3 linked regions of the Homo sapiens genome follow. The protein of the gene in region 1 purifies or fractionates together with the protein of each later gene. This does not show direct contact. Each region holds a gene or a part of one and is shown in the gene's direction. Other genes may lie near its edges. The genes, in order: LMBRD2, NTRK2 and SLC22A17.

What was found.
Region 2: the proteins of LMBRD2 (region 1) and NTRK2 fractionate together in Homo sapiens (co-fractionation; one large-scale study listed by BioGRID). This does not show direct contact.
Region 3: the proteins of LMBRD2 (region 1) and SLC22A17 fractionate together in Homo sapiens (co-fractionation; one large-scale study listed by BioGRID). This does not show direct contact.

What each region holds. Positions count from the first base shown.
Region 1 is NC_000005.10:36,113,791-36,117,441, reverse strand, and holds part of LMBRD2 (G-protein coupled receptor-associated protein LMBRD2), read left to right. Parts: intron 1-848; coding exon 849-982; intron 983-2,321; coding exon 2,322-2,427; intron 2,428-2,920; coding exon 2,921-3,018; intron 3,019-3,651. UniProt on the Homo sapiens protein: Recruited to ligand-activated beta-2 adrenergic receptor/ADRB2, it negatively regulates the adrenergic receptor signaling pathway. May also regulate other G-protein coupled receptors including type-1 angiotensin II receptor/AGTR1.
Region 2 is NC_000009.12:84,676,156-84,679,806, forward strand, and holds part of NTRK2 (BDNF/NT-3 growth factors receptor isoform a precursor), read left to right. Parts: intron 1-3,651. UniProt on the Homo sapiens protein: Receptor tyrosine kinase involved in the development and the maturation of the central and the peripheral nervous systems through regulation of neuron survival, proliferation, migration, differentiation, and synapse formation and plasticity.
Region 3 is NC_000014.9:23,349,985-23,354,096, reverse strand, and holds the start of SLC22A17 (solute carrier family 22 member 17), read left to right. Parts: upstream 1-1,209; 5' UTR 1,210-1,355; coding exon 1,356-1,451; intron 1,452-1,645; coding exon 1,646-2,149; intron 2,150-2,241; coding exon 2,242-2,345; intron 2,346-4,112. UniProt on the Homo sapiens protein: Cell surface receptor for LCN2 (24p3) that plays a key role in iron homeostasis and transport.

The sequences.
Region 1 (3,651 bases):
CATGAACATGGCTCACTGCAGCCTCAACTTCCCGGGCTCAAGAAATCCTCTCACCTTCACCTTAGCCTCCCAAGTAGCTGGGCCTACAGCCATGCACCACCATCCCCTGCTAATTTTTGTATTTTTTGTAGAGTCAGGATTTTGCCATGTTGCCCAGGCTGGTCTGGAACTCTTGCACTCAAGTGATCGTCCTGCTTCAGGAGGATCCATCACACTTGGCCCTGGGAATACTTTGATTATATTTATGCCAGTAAAGCTACATAACTTATAGGCCTCATGTGAAGAGTTGCCAAGGGAATGGGAAAACAGGCTCACATTAGAAGGTAGATTCGAAACTTTTGGATCTAGGATGTTAAACAGTTTGAAGTGTTGGGTTTTTTTCATAATCTTAGTGGGTGATTAAAAAATTCTCTATTACTGTATTTCAATTTTAGAGCATCAATAAATGTTAGCTAGAAATGAAGGCCAGGCTGGGCGTGGTGGCTCACACCTGTAATCCCAGCTCTTTGGGAGGCGAAGGCGAATGGATCATGAGATCAGGAGTTTGAGACCAGCCTGGCAAACATGGTGAAACCCCATCTTACTAAAAATACAAAAATTAGCCGGGCGTGGTGGCACATGCCTGTAATCCCAGCTACTCAGTTGGCTGAGGCAGGAGAATCACTTGAACCCAGGAGGTGGAGGTTGCAGTGAGCCAAGATCGCGCCACTGCACTCCAGCCTGGGTGACAGGGCGAGACTCCATCTCAAAAAAACAAAAGAAAAAGAAATGAAGGATAATGCCTGTAATTGTTAAGTGCTAAAGTCTGTTTGTTTTAAACAAACTGCTTTGTTTTTGTTTTTTTCCAGATTGCCTGCTTCCTTTCCATCTTCTTCCTAAGTATCTGTGTTTATTCTACTGTGTTCAGGATTCGTGTATTTAACTATTATTATTTGGCCTCACATCACCAGACTGATGCTTATAGCCTTCTTTTCAGTGGCATGTAAGTAGGATTATGTTTAGAAACAAGAGAAATGTCATCATTGAGTGTATTCTTATGGATCTTTTATTTTTTGTTGTTTACAGGTGTTCCACTAACATCTATATTTCTATCAGCTAATTGATTAGTTTCAAATATTAAATTGATGTTTGTTGATTGCCAGCTACTTCCTGCTTGAGGTTTAAGGTTAAAATAGGTGTGCTAGGTTAGGCTAGAAGGCAGAAGAAGCATACTTAGTGAGCCCGGATTTACCAACCAGAGATTAGCAAGCAGTAGAAACAATGGACAGTTTAGAGACTAAGTCAGACCTAGATGGTGTTCTAAGATTCAGCGGTCTCTCACTGAGTTGAGGAGGACTGAGAAAACCAACAAGAACAATTTTTCCTGAGGAATTCAGAGAGGATTTAGAGAGATGTCTTCAAGTTGGGCAAGATTGTACAATCTATTACCTGTTCTTATTGTTAAATGAGTCCTATTAGGTATTTATAAAGGATGAACTTAGATAATTTTATAGAGGAGTTGACATCCAAAGTATTTTTAAGCATCTTTTTTGTTGTTTTCCAAATAATTATGGACTCATGGGAAGTTGCAAATGTAGCACAAAAAGTCCTATGTAACCTTCACGCTACCCCCAGTGATATCAAAACCAGGAAATGAGAGTAAAACATTACTATTAACTACAAACTACAGACTTTATTTAGTTCTCACCATTTTTTATCCTTCATTCGTGTGTGTGTGTGTGTGTGTAGATTCCTGTAGCCACCAACACAATCAGGATTCAGAACAGTTCTATCACCACAAAAGAATTATCTCATATTATTTTTTTTTAATTCATACCCACACTTTATTCTCCCCAGCCCCAATTATCCAAGTGTGTGGGTTTGTAAGGCATTCTTTTTATTTGGACAGAATTGAACAACTTTATATCTGTGCTTGTCAGAATGACATATGTTGATACAACTTCAGTTCTTTTATGTACTGAATACAATTCACCTTGAGGATGTTACTGTCCTTGTCATGCTGTGAGATGGATTTTACGGATGGCTTAGTTGTAGGAGATGATACAAAGGCACTCCACAACTTGTGGGGATAAAGCAATGGCAGAAACCATAAAAGCAAGGAGCTTGAGGCTGTAGTCACGTAGGCATTGATGTGGCAATTTTCAGAATATCTCCCAAGTAAGTGAGGGCAGGTCACATTAAGAATTCAATATATATATAAAGCAAATAGATGAAAATTTTAGCTATAATTATCTGAAATGTTTTTAATACATCTCAGTATACTATAAAATGTATTTTGCTGCTTTACTTTTTATATACATATTTTTAAATGTTTGTTGCAGGCTATTTTGCCGTTTGACACCTCCTTTATGTCTTAATTTCTTGGGTTTGACCCATATGGATTCATCTATCTCTCACAAGAATACTCAACCAACTGCTTATACATCTGTAAGTACGGTCAGAAAATAGAATTCCTTAGGTTCACTATCTATATGAGGTGCTGTTATTGTGAAATTTCTTTTAATGCCAGCAGAAAAGTTCTATAGTGTTATTGGTAAAATTTTCTCTTAAAGATTGTATACGTATTACTATTGACTAGATAAAAGTGATTTTCCTTCTTTTATGATAAAAATGTTTTTTTTGGTTCATATATGTTGTCTAGCTGACCAGTATCAAAAGAACTGACCTATACTAATATTAACTTTATATTTGTAGTCAATGTATGTGATAATTTTGAGTAATAATTATATTAATTTTCTTTAAGAGAAAACCTCAATAAAAAGCAGATTTTAAAAAATAAGTCCATTTACTGCTTTTTTTCTACTTTTTAAAAAGTTCAAATGGATTGATATAACTGGTTATAGGCAAATTTTCTAATGATGGAAAGGAATGGAAATTATAGAGCTATTCCAATTTAACTTACTTTTTTCTTGCTCTTCAGATTATGGGTTCCATGAAAGTTTTATCCTTTATTGCAGATGGATTCTATATATATTATCCTATGTTGGTGGTAATTCTCTGCATTGCTACTTATTTTAGGTAAGAAACTTAACATTGTTTTTTCTTTTGCTCTTAAATCTGGATATCCTTTCTCTTTAAAGCTCTTTTAAATATTTACTGATTGAGTTTCAGTTTGTTTCATTGTAGCTTTGGAGAAGCTGGGGATAGTTTGAAGGGACTACTTGAGTGATCAGGTGCGAGTCTCCCTCTAAAAAATTTAAAGAAAAAAGAGGTAGAGTTATTATTCTATTATAATAAATAATACTATTTTAACATTATTCTATTTAGGCTAAAAAATGATAGGATTAATTACAGAATGTTAACTCTAAGTCCTGGCCTTTGACACTGACAGCTATCGTAGCCTGCAAAACACCCTTATGTCCAGCTTTTTTCTAATGACATAAATTAGCCTTAGAGCTTTCCAATAATTATTGCTGGGTGTCTAAATGCTTCAGACCATGGCCAGCACAAAGGGTCAGGTGAGGACCGATTGTAATCAAGCTGTACATTAAGATTAGAGGAGAAATTTTCTCCTGTGTCATAAAGTACATGGCATGCTGTTTTCATGGAATTAGAATGAATGGTAGAATCTAGGCAGGAGTGAGATTCAAAAGGGATTAAAGGATAGGTGTACTTGGCTTCTCGCATCTGTCTTTCCTTCTTTTTACATGT
Region 2 (3,651 bases), on another chromosome or scaffold:
TTAATGTTTCTGGGCCTCAGCTTGTCACATGTAAACTGAGGGCTTTGGATTTGATGCTCAGACAAGTTTCTCAAGGCTCTGAAGTTCCCTGAAGCCTCGGTCACGGAGATAAGGAAGTGTATACATCAGCTGTGAAGGAAGGGCATGATACAAGGTGCTCGGGGTCTGGCAGTGTGTGAATCTGAAGACCTTTGGTGTCAGAGTGTTATGTGGAAATGTTTTCAGTGTCTGCTCTGAACTCCCTCAAACCATGTCTTTTTAAATGTGAGCTGCTAACAAGGCTAGTGGCATGTTAGTACTGGTCTGATGAGTCCAAGGTCACAGGGTCAGTGTTCAGATGGGTCACTTAGAATCGGAACCTCAGAAAGAGAAAGGGCTTTAGAAATGATCTGCTTCAGCCTCTTCTTTGCAAAAATCAAGGGCAGTGAAGAAAGTTGCCGAAGGCCGACTCATTAACAGCATTGTGGGAACTAGAAGCTCCTTCTCCTAGCATCCAAATGAATGCTGGGGGCCTTTGCTTTAGGGTGCCTCCCCTCCGTTCTGTGTTCTCAAACAGACCGCCTAATTCTGGCTCATCATTTTATTAGGTTGGTGCGAAAGTAACTGTGGTTTTTGCCATTACTTTTGCACCAACCTAATAGAACCACCATAAATGGGGAGACAAGTTTAACATGGCTAAGTCTGTGCAAACTCATCTCTGTGAGAGACCAAGTAATTGAAAAGTGCATGAGCTACTGATCTGAAAGCAATCATCTTATCTTCATATAGGAAGAAATATATTTTCTGTTTAGCTTACTGTGTGTGAGTGTGTGTGTGTGTGTGTGTGTTAAATTTGAAGTGTTCCTCTTCTTTAGGCAATTCATACACAAAAAATTTGAGCTTCAGAGAAAAGCCTTCATGAGTTGGCAGCAATGAGGTATGCTAACCTTGGGCCTGCTGGGCCATCTTTGCAGATTGGCATTAGAAGAGGGGCAGAGCAGACAGAGTGAAATGAAACCTGTTGCCCCTGGAGTCTTTGCCACAGTCGGGGGTGCTTATGTAAGTGGAGAAACCCGCAGCCCTTTCGATGAGGTCTGTGTTAGCTGCCCTGAAAGACCTGTGGCCAGAGAGTACTTATTATTCCCCGACTTCTTTCTTCCCCCTGACTTCTCAATGCCTCAAGATTGATGACTAGTCTCAGTGGCTGAGCCAGTGAGCAAACTTCAGGATTATTGGCTCCCATCCAAAATTCATCCAGCTACCATTTTATGTGTTGTTCGTGTTCTGCTCTGAGACCTTTCCAGGAAAAGCACCCTTCTGAGACATATTTTTGGTTGCATGAAGATTTGCTCCCATGGGACGTGAAGGGCCCTTTACAGACATCTGCTTATTTAGGTTTACAGCCTCACTCTGAAGAAGGTGGGGAGGTTTTGGCAGCCTCTGAGGGGCTGTGAGGTTTATTAGTTTGCCTGGGCCCCTTGGTAAAGCAGAGCATAATTTAGGGGTAGGATCCTATCTAATGTCTCATTTAGGGCTCTGTCTACTCCAACCTTGGTGCCCAAATTTGACCTCGAGAGCCAAGGCAATTCTAGGAGAGGTCTAGAGATTTGAATTCATGTTCACAGATTAAACTTCATGCAGTGGGAAGGAGGTGGGCTGGTGCTTCATCCTCTGTCTTCCCCACCCCTATCCTCTTCTCCTGTTCAGCTCCTGAGCAGTCTGATATATATTGTGAAGAGATAAATGATTTGGTTGCCTTTGGTAATATGGCATCTTCTTGTACAAAATAAAACTGTTAATAATCACACACCATTTAGAGTTCCTTTTTTTATGTCAAATAAGGACAAATTGCTACTTAGCATCCCATCCTTTCCTGTAATCTTCATATCCCAAGAATTGTCTACACACACACACATAGACACACACCATAATGTTGTATGTGTGTACCGTGTTTTCATCAATACATAAATCTGTGTATAAAACTCTGCCATGTGTAATTTGTTCAACTTAATTATCTTGAGTTGTAAAATTTTCTGAATAATTGAGAATGTGCTTCCCTAAACCACTATTTTAATTTTGTTTTTATCATTCTGGATGTCCCTTGGCCAGGATCTGGTTGGGCTGTCTTCTTTGAGAGAAGTACTTGAGCATTAGTGCATTGACCCTGTTAGCCGACCTGGTCACTCAGAGACCCACTGTGTCTATCTTCTGATTCTTTGATATCTTCTCAACATAAACGAACAATGTAAACAAAATTGAAAGGTATCGGAATTTTGGTTTCAACCTCTGCAATATAGTGCAATTTAAAAAGAAAGGATCTTCTCAACGCTAATCTTTGTAACAAGAGTTGTTTCTACTTCATGTACCCCAGAGTCCCTTGCTGTGAGGTGGCAGAGGGGCCTATGCCTGAATTGTCTGACTCTTGCTCACTGTGTGGCAAGTGACCTCTCTTTTCTGGGCTTGGCTTATTCCTCTGTGTGATGCATGTGTAGGGGTGGAGGGTGCTGGGCAAGAGAGCTTGACATCATAGCCCCTAGATTCCCTGGTAAGGTGTGACAAAAAAACACACAACTATGGTGAAACAAAACAAAACAAAACAAGTGTCTTTCTCCAAAGAACAAAACAAAACCCCAAACCAGAACACTCTTTTTAGTTTACTCCCAATTTTACTTCAAAACCCTGCTGCTACCACCCAAACTCAAAGAATGTTATAGATGATATTGCTCCTTGGTTATTTCTTGTGTGCGTCTGGTGCTATGGCTTGAATGTTTGTATTCTGCCAAAATTCATGTGTTGAAACTCAGTCACCAGGGTAGTGGTGTTGAGAGGTGGGAGTTGATTAGGACATAAAGGCAAAATGGGATTGGTGCCCTTATAAAAGAGACTCCAGAGAGCTTGTTTGTCCTTCCTGCCATGTGAGGACACACATAGAAGGTGCCATTTATGAGGAATGGGCCCTCACCAGATATGAAACCTCCCAGAACCTTGATCTTAGACTTCTCAGCCTCTAAAACTGTGAGCAATACATTTCTGTTGTTATAAATTACCCAGTCTAAGATATTTTATTTTAGCAGCCCACATGGACTAAGGTACATGGGTTTGGCCTTTCTCTTTGCAACTCTTCAGCCTCTTTCTGTTTCTGGTGGTGTTTCTTATCCCCTTCTCCTCTGTTCCCAAATCACAGACATATATATACAAACAATCATTTGGCTGTAAACCCCCTTTAATGGATTGTAAAGAAATCTTGACTTGTGTACTTTTTTCTGGTGGACGACCTGTGGGCAGACCATCATTGTTTCAACTGAACCTGGCTTGGTAAGGTTAACACAGTGGGAAAGGCGACAAAGTATAGGAACGTGGTATAACTGAAAGGAGCGCTGGTTAGGGATCTAGGATTTTGGATACCCACTCTCTGACAGTATCAGGGTCTGGGATTTTGGTTGAGCCACTTGACCTCACCAGCCTGACTGATTTCATCTTGAACCTGGAGGCTGTGACACTCATGCATGCTACTCCTTGAAAGACTCTGTGGTTCTGAATCAGTCAGCCATGAGCACTAGTGTTTCCTTTTCTGTTCAAGAATTCACCATTGCCTTCACTCCAGGGGCAAACAAGAGCCTGCTTCAGTTCTTTTGGTGGCTAAACAGCAGAAACCTGACCAGTAGGTTTTCT
Region 3 (4,112 bases), on another chromosome or scaffold:
GGGCAGAATTTTGTAAAGAATTCAACATGGATAAGGAAGAGAAAGCTCTAAAGGCTGTTGCCTGAGCATTTGGCCACAATGCGATGTTGAGGGTGCCATTCGCTGCAGAAAAAAGCAGTGGAAGCCAACCAAGTTATGGGGGAAAAGCAAAAATTTCGTCTTGAACATATTGAGTTTGAGGTCCCTGTGAGTCATCCAAGGTGAAGGTCAAATAAGAGGTGGCTTCATAGGTCTGGAGCTCAGAACAGAGGTGGAAGCTGGAGATGTCAGTCTGGGCGTCAGGTTTGTATTGTTTGTATGGGTGGTGATTGAAGCTGTGGGCATAGGTAAGATCCCAAAGTGGAGACAGTGTGAGATGAGAGGAGGGCCTAGGACTAAGTCTGTGAGGATTCCAGACACTGAACCATGGTGTCTAAATGATACAGACGGGAATGGCCCTAGAAGCCAGCACCACAGCCTCATCACTACCAATACAGACCCCTCCTGCAGTTGCGTCACCCCGCTGGACTTCAATCATTGCCTCAAGAACCGGGAGGATAATGGCCTGCCCATGCTCAGCACCAATGCCATGAGCTGGAAGACGATTTCTGCAATGGAGAAAAGGGGAGCAAGAGAGACTCAGCAGCAAAGGAAGAGAGTGTTTAGAGGAAGAGGGGTCAACAGTGCCAAATGCTGTTGAGAAATGGAGATTCAAACAGGATGGGAGTGATGAAACCCAAGAAAGTGGTCTCCTTGTAGAGGACTGAAGCTAGGGCTGATACAGGGCCAAGACAGTCTTCCATATGCATAAGTTGTACTGTAATAGCCAGTTTACATGTCTGTCTCCCTGGAGTAAAGGTCTCCAAAGTGGAACTTGTCCACCCTGTTATCCTTAAAGTCTAGTGCAAGTCCTGGAACGTAGTGGACACTTAAATTTTACTGATTAGTGAATGGGTGAATGAATGAATGAATGAATGATGGCAAATGATTGGAAGCAGAGGAAGAATCTCTGGCATCTGCCTGGACTAGCTACTATCCTTCAGCTTTTTTTCTTTTTTACCGCAATGGCCCGCAGACCCAGGAAAGAGACGACAGAGCCCCCCTTCCCTCCCTCCCCTGGGCCCTGGCCCCCCTTCCTCTCTCTGACGAAGAGTCTGGACCGAAGGTTCTGCTGACGTGGGAAGGGGAGGAGAGTCTAGAGGAAGGGGAGGGGAAAGCAGCGCAGAGATCGCAGAGACCAAGGAGGCGCCCGCGGCTGCAGAGCTGCAGAGCGGGATCTCTTCGAGCTGTCTGTGTCCGGGCAGCCGGCGCGCAACTGAGCCAGAGGACAGCGCATCCTTTCGGCGCGGGCCGGCAGGGCCCCTGCGGTCGGCAAGCTGGCTCCCCGGGTGGCCACCGGGACCCCCGAGCCCAATGGCGGGGGCGGCGGCAAAATCGACAACACTGTAGAGATCACCCCCACCTCCAACGGAGTAAGTGCCCGAGCCCCAGGTGGCGACGCCATCCTCTCCCAGCACCCCCGCCCCCGCGGAGCGTCTGGCATTTTCCTCCTGCGCATCCCTCGCCCCTGACTGCCTTCCTAGCCCTCCCTCCCACCTGCCCCCTGCCCTTGCTCTGCGGTTTCCTCCGCTTCACCCTTCTCCTGCCACCCCCTGCCCCCCAACAGCAGGTCGGGACCCTCGGAGATGCGGTGCCCACGGAGCAGCTGCAGGGTGAGCGGGAGCGCGAGCGGGAGGGGGAGGGAGACGCGGGCGGCGACGGACTGGGCAGCAGCCTGTCGCTGGCCGTGCCCCCAGGCCCCCTCAGCTTTGAGGCGCTGCTCGCCCAGGTGGGGGCGCTGGGCGGCGGCCAGCAGCTGCAGCTCGGCCTCTGCTGCCTGCCGGTGCTCTTCGTGGCTCTGGGCATGGCCTCGGACCCCATCTTCACGCTGGCGCCCCCGCTGCATTGCCACTACGGGGCCTTCCCCCCTAATGCCTCTGGCTGGGAGCAGCCTCCCAATGCCAGCGGCGTCAGCGTCGCCAGCGCTGCCCTAGCAGCCAGCGCCGCCAGCCGTGTCGCCACCAGTACCGACCCCTCGTGCAGCGGCTTCGCCCCGCCGGACTTCAACCATTGCCTCAAGGATTGGGACTATAATGGCCTTCCTGTGCTCACCACCAACGCCATCGGCCAGGTGAGGCGGCCAGGCGGGCCGCGGGTCTGGGGGCGGGCAGAGAGCGGCGAGGGCGGGGCCTCACGCCCGCTGCACCCTTCTCACATCCCCAGTGGGATCTGGTGTGTGACCTGGGCTGGCAGGTGATCCTGGAGCAGATCCTCTTCATCTTGGGCTTTGCCTCCGGCTACCTGTTCCTGGGTTACCCCGCAGACAGGTGAGGGCTGTCGTGGGGGCAGGGCTGGTAGAAAGGAGGGGGTGCTAGGGAAGCTAACCCAAGCAGCGGGCGTTTACAGGAGGTCGAAGACGATTCGCTGGACTCTGCAGTCTTCTCTGGACTTCTATTCAATGGTCTATCCATGTCTCAACTTCACTCTCCATCAAGAAATACCCCTTCCCTACCTCTTCCGCGCAAGGGAATGACTCGACCTCTATGGACTATTAGTCCCATTCCCACTAATTAGTGGCCCCCTATCCGTGAATCAATGGCCTCATCTCCAAAGAGAATAGTCTCATCCCCACTAACAGCCCACATGGACTGTTCGCTCCATCTCAGTGACCTCATTCCTGAAGATCAATATGTTAATTCCTAAACACCAACAGCTCCATTCCCACTGATCAATAGTTCAACTTCACAAACAAATTACCCCATTTCTGACCAGCGACCCCTCCCCTACAAGTCAACTAACTATCTCCAAAGACAATATCCTCAGACCCAGTAACCCACAGTCCCATGCCTGCCACCAAATGACCCAACGCTCTGTAGGGGAATAGCCCATAGATTAGCAGTCATACCCTCATGGATCCTCAGGGCTTTGAGATCCTCTCACCGAAATCCCCGTTTCCATGAGTCGGTAGCTTCACCTCTAGAGATCAACAACCCAATCCCAGCAACCAATAACTCTTCCCACAGATCAAAAATCTCATCTCTGATTCTGGTCACCTTCACCACTGACCAGATGCTCTCACTGCACTAAACTTCCGATTAGACTCAGCCCCATTGATCCACAGTTCCATCCAAGTGGATTAATAACTCAACTTCTGTGGATCAAAGCCATCCCAACATTCAATAGTCCAGTTCCTTAAAATCAATACCCATCCTCACTGCCCAATAGTCACACACCTCTGTGGGCCAATGATCCGAAACCCACAGGTCAATAGCCCATCCCTATGCATCAGTGGCCTCATTGCCACAGACCAGTAGCCTCATTCCTATGGAACCATGGTTTCATCCCCAAAGATCAATAATTTGGTCTTCTAAAATCTGTAGCCTTCAGCACATTAACCAATAAGCCCATCCTCATGGAAAAATGCCCCACCCCATTAGATCAATAGCCTAACTCCCAGGGATTGGTGCCCCTTTTGCAATGACCAGAGGCTCCCTATCTTCATCTCCATAGATCAATGGTCTTATCCCCAAAGATCAATAGCCCAGCCTCCAAGAATCAGTAACCATGTCTTCACTAACTCATAGTTAGTGACCATAATCACTTACCAATAGTCTCATCTCCCCTGGTCTGTGACCTTATCCTTACTGATTATTCCCATGGATTAATAGATTCATCCCACTGATCAATAGTCCTACCTTATGGATTAATACACCCATGTCTATGTCCCCACTGATCTTTCTTTTTTCTTTCTTTTTTTTCTTTTTTCTTTCTTTTTGAGATGGAGTCTCGCTCTGTTGCCCAGGCTGGAGTGCAGTGGCATAATCTCAGCTCACTGCAACCTCTGCCTCCCAGGTTCAAGCGATTCTCCTGCCTCAGCCTCCCGAGTAGCTGAGACTACAGGCACCTGCCACCACACCTGGCTAATTTTTGTATTTTTAGTAAGGATGGGGTTTCACCATATTTGTCAGGCTGGTCTTGAACTCCTGACCTCGTGATCTGCCAGCCTCGGCCTCCCAAAGTGCTGGGATTACAGGTGTGAGCCACTGCGCCCAGCCTGACCATTCTTAATGTATTAATAGACCAATGTCCCACCT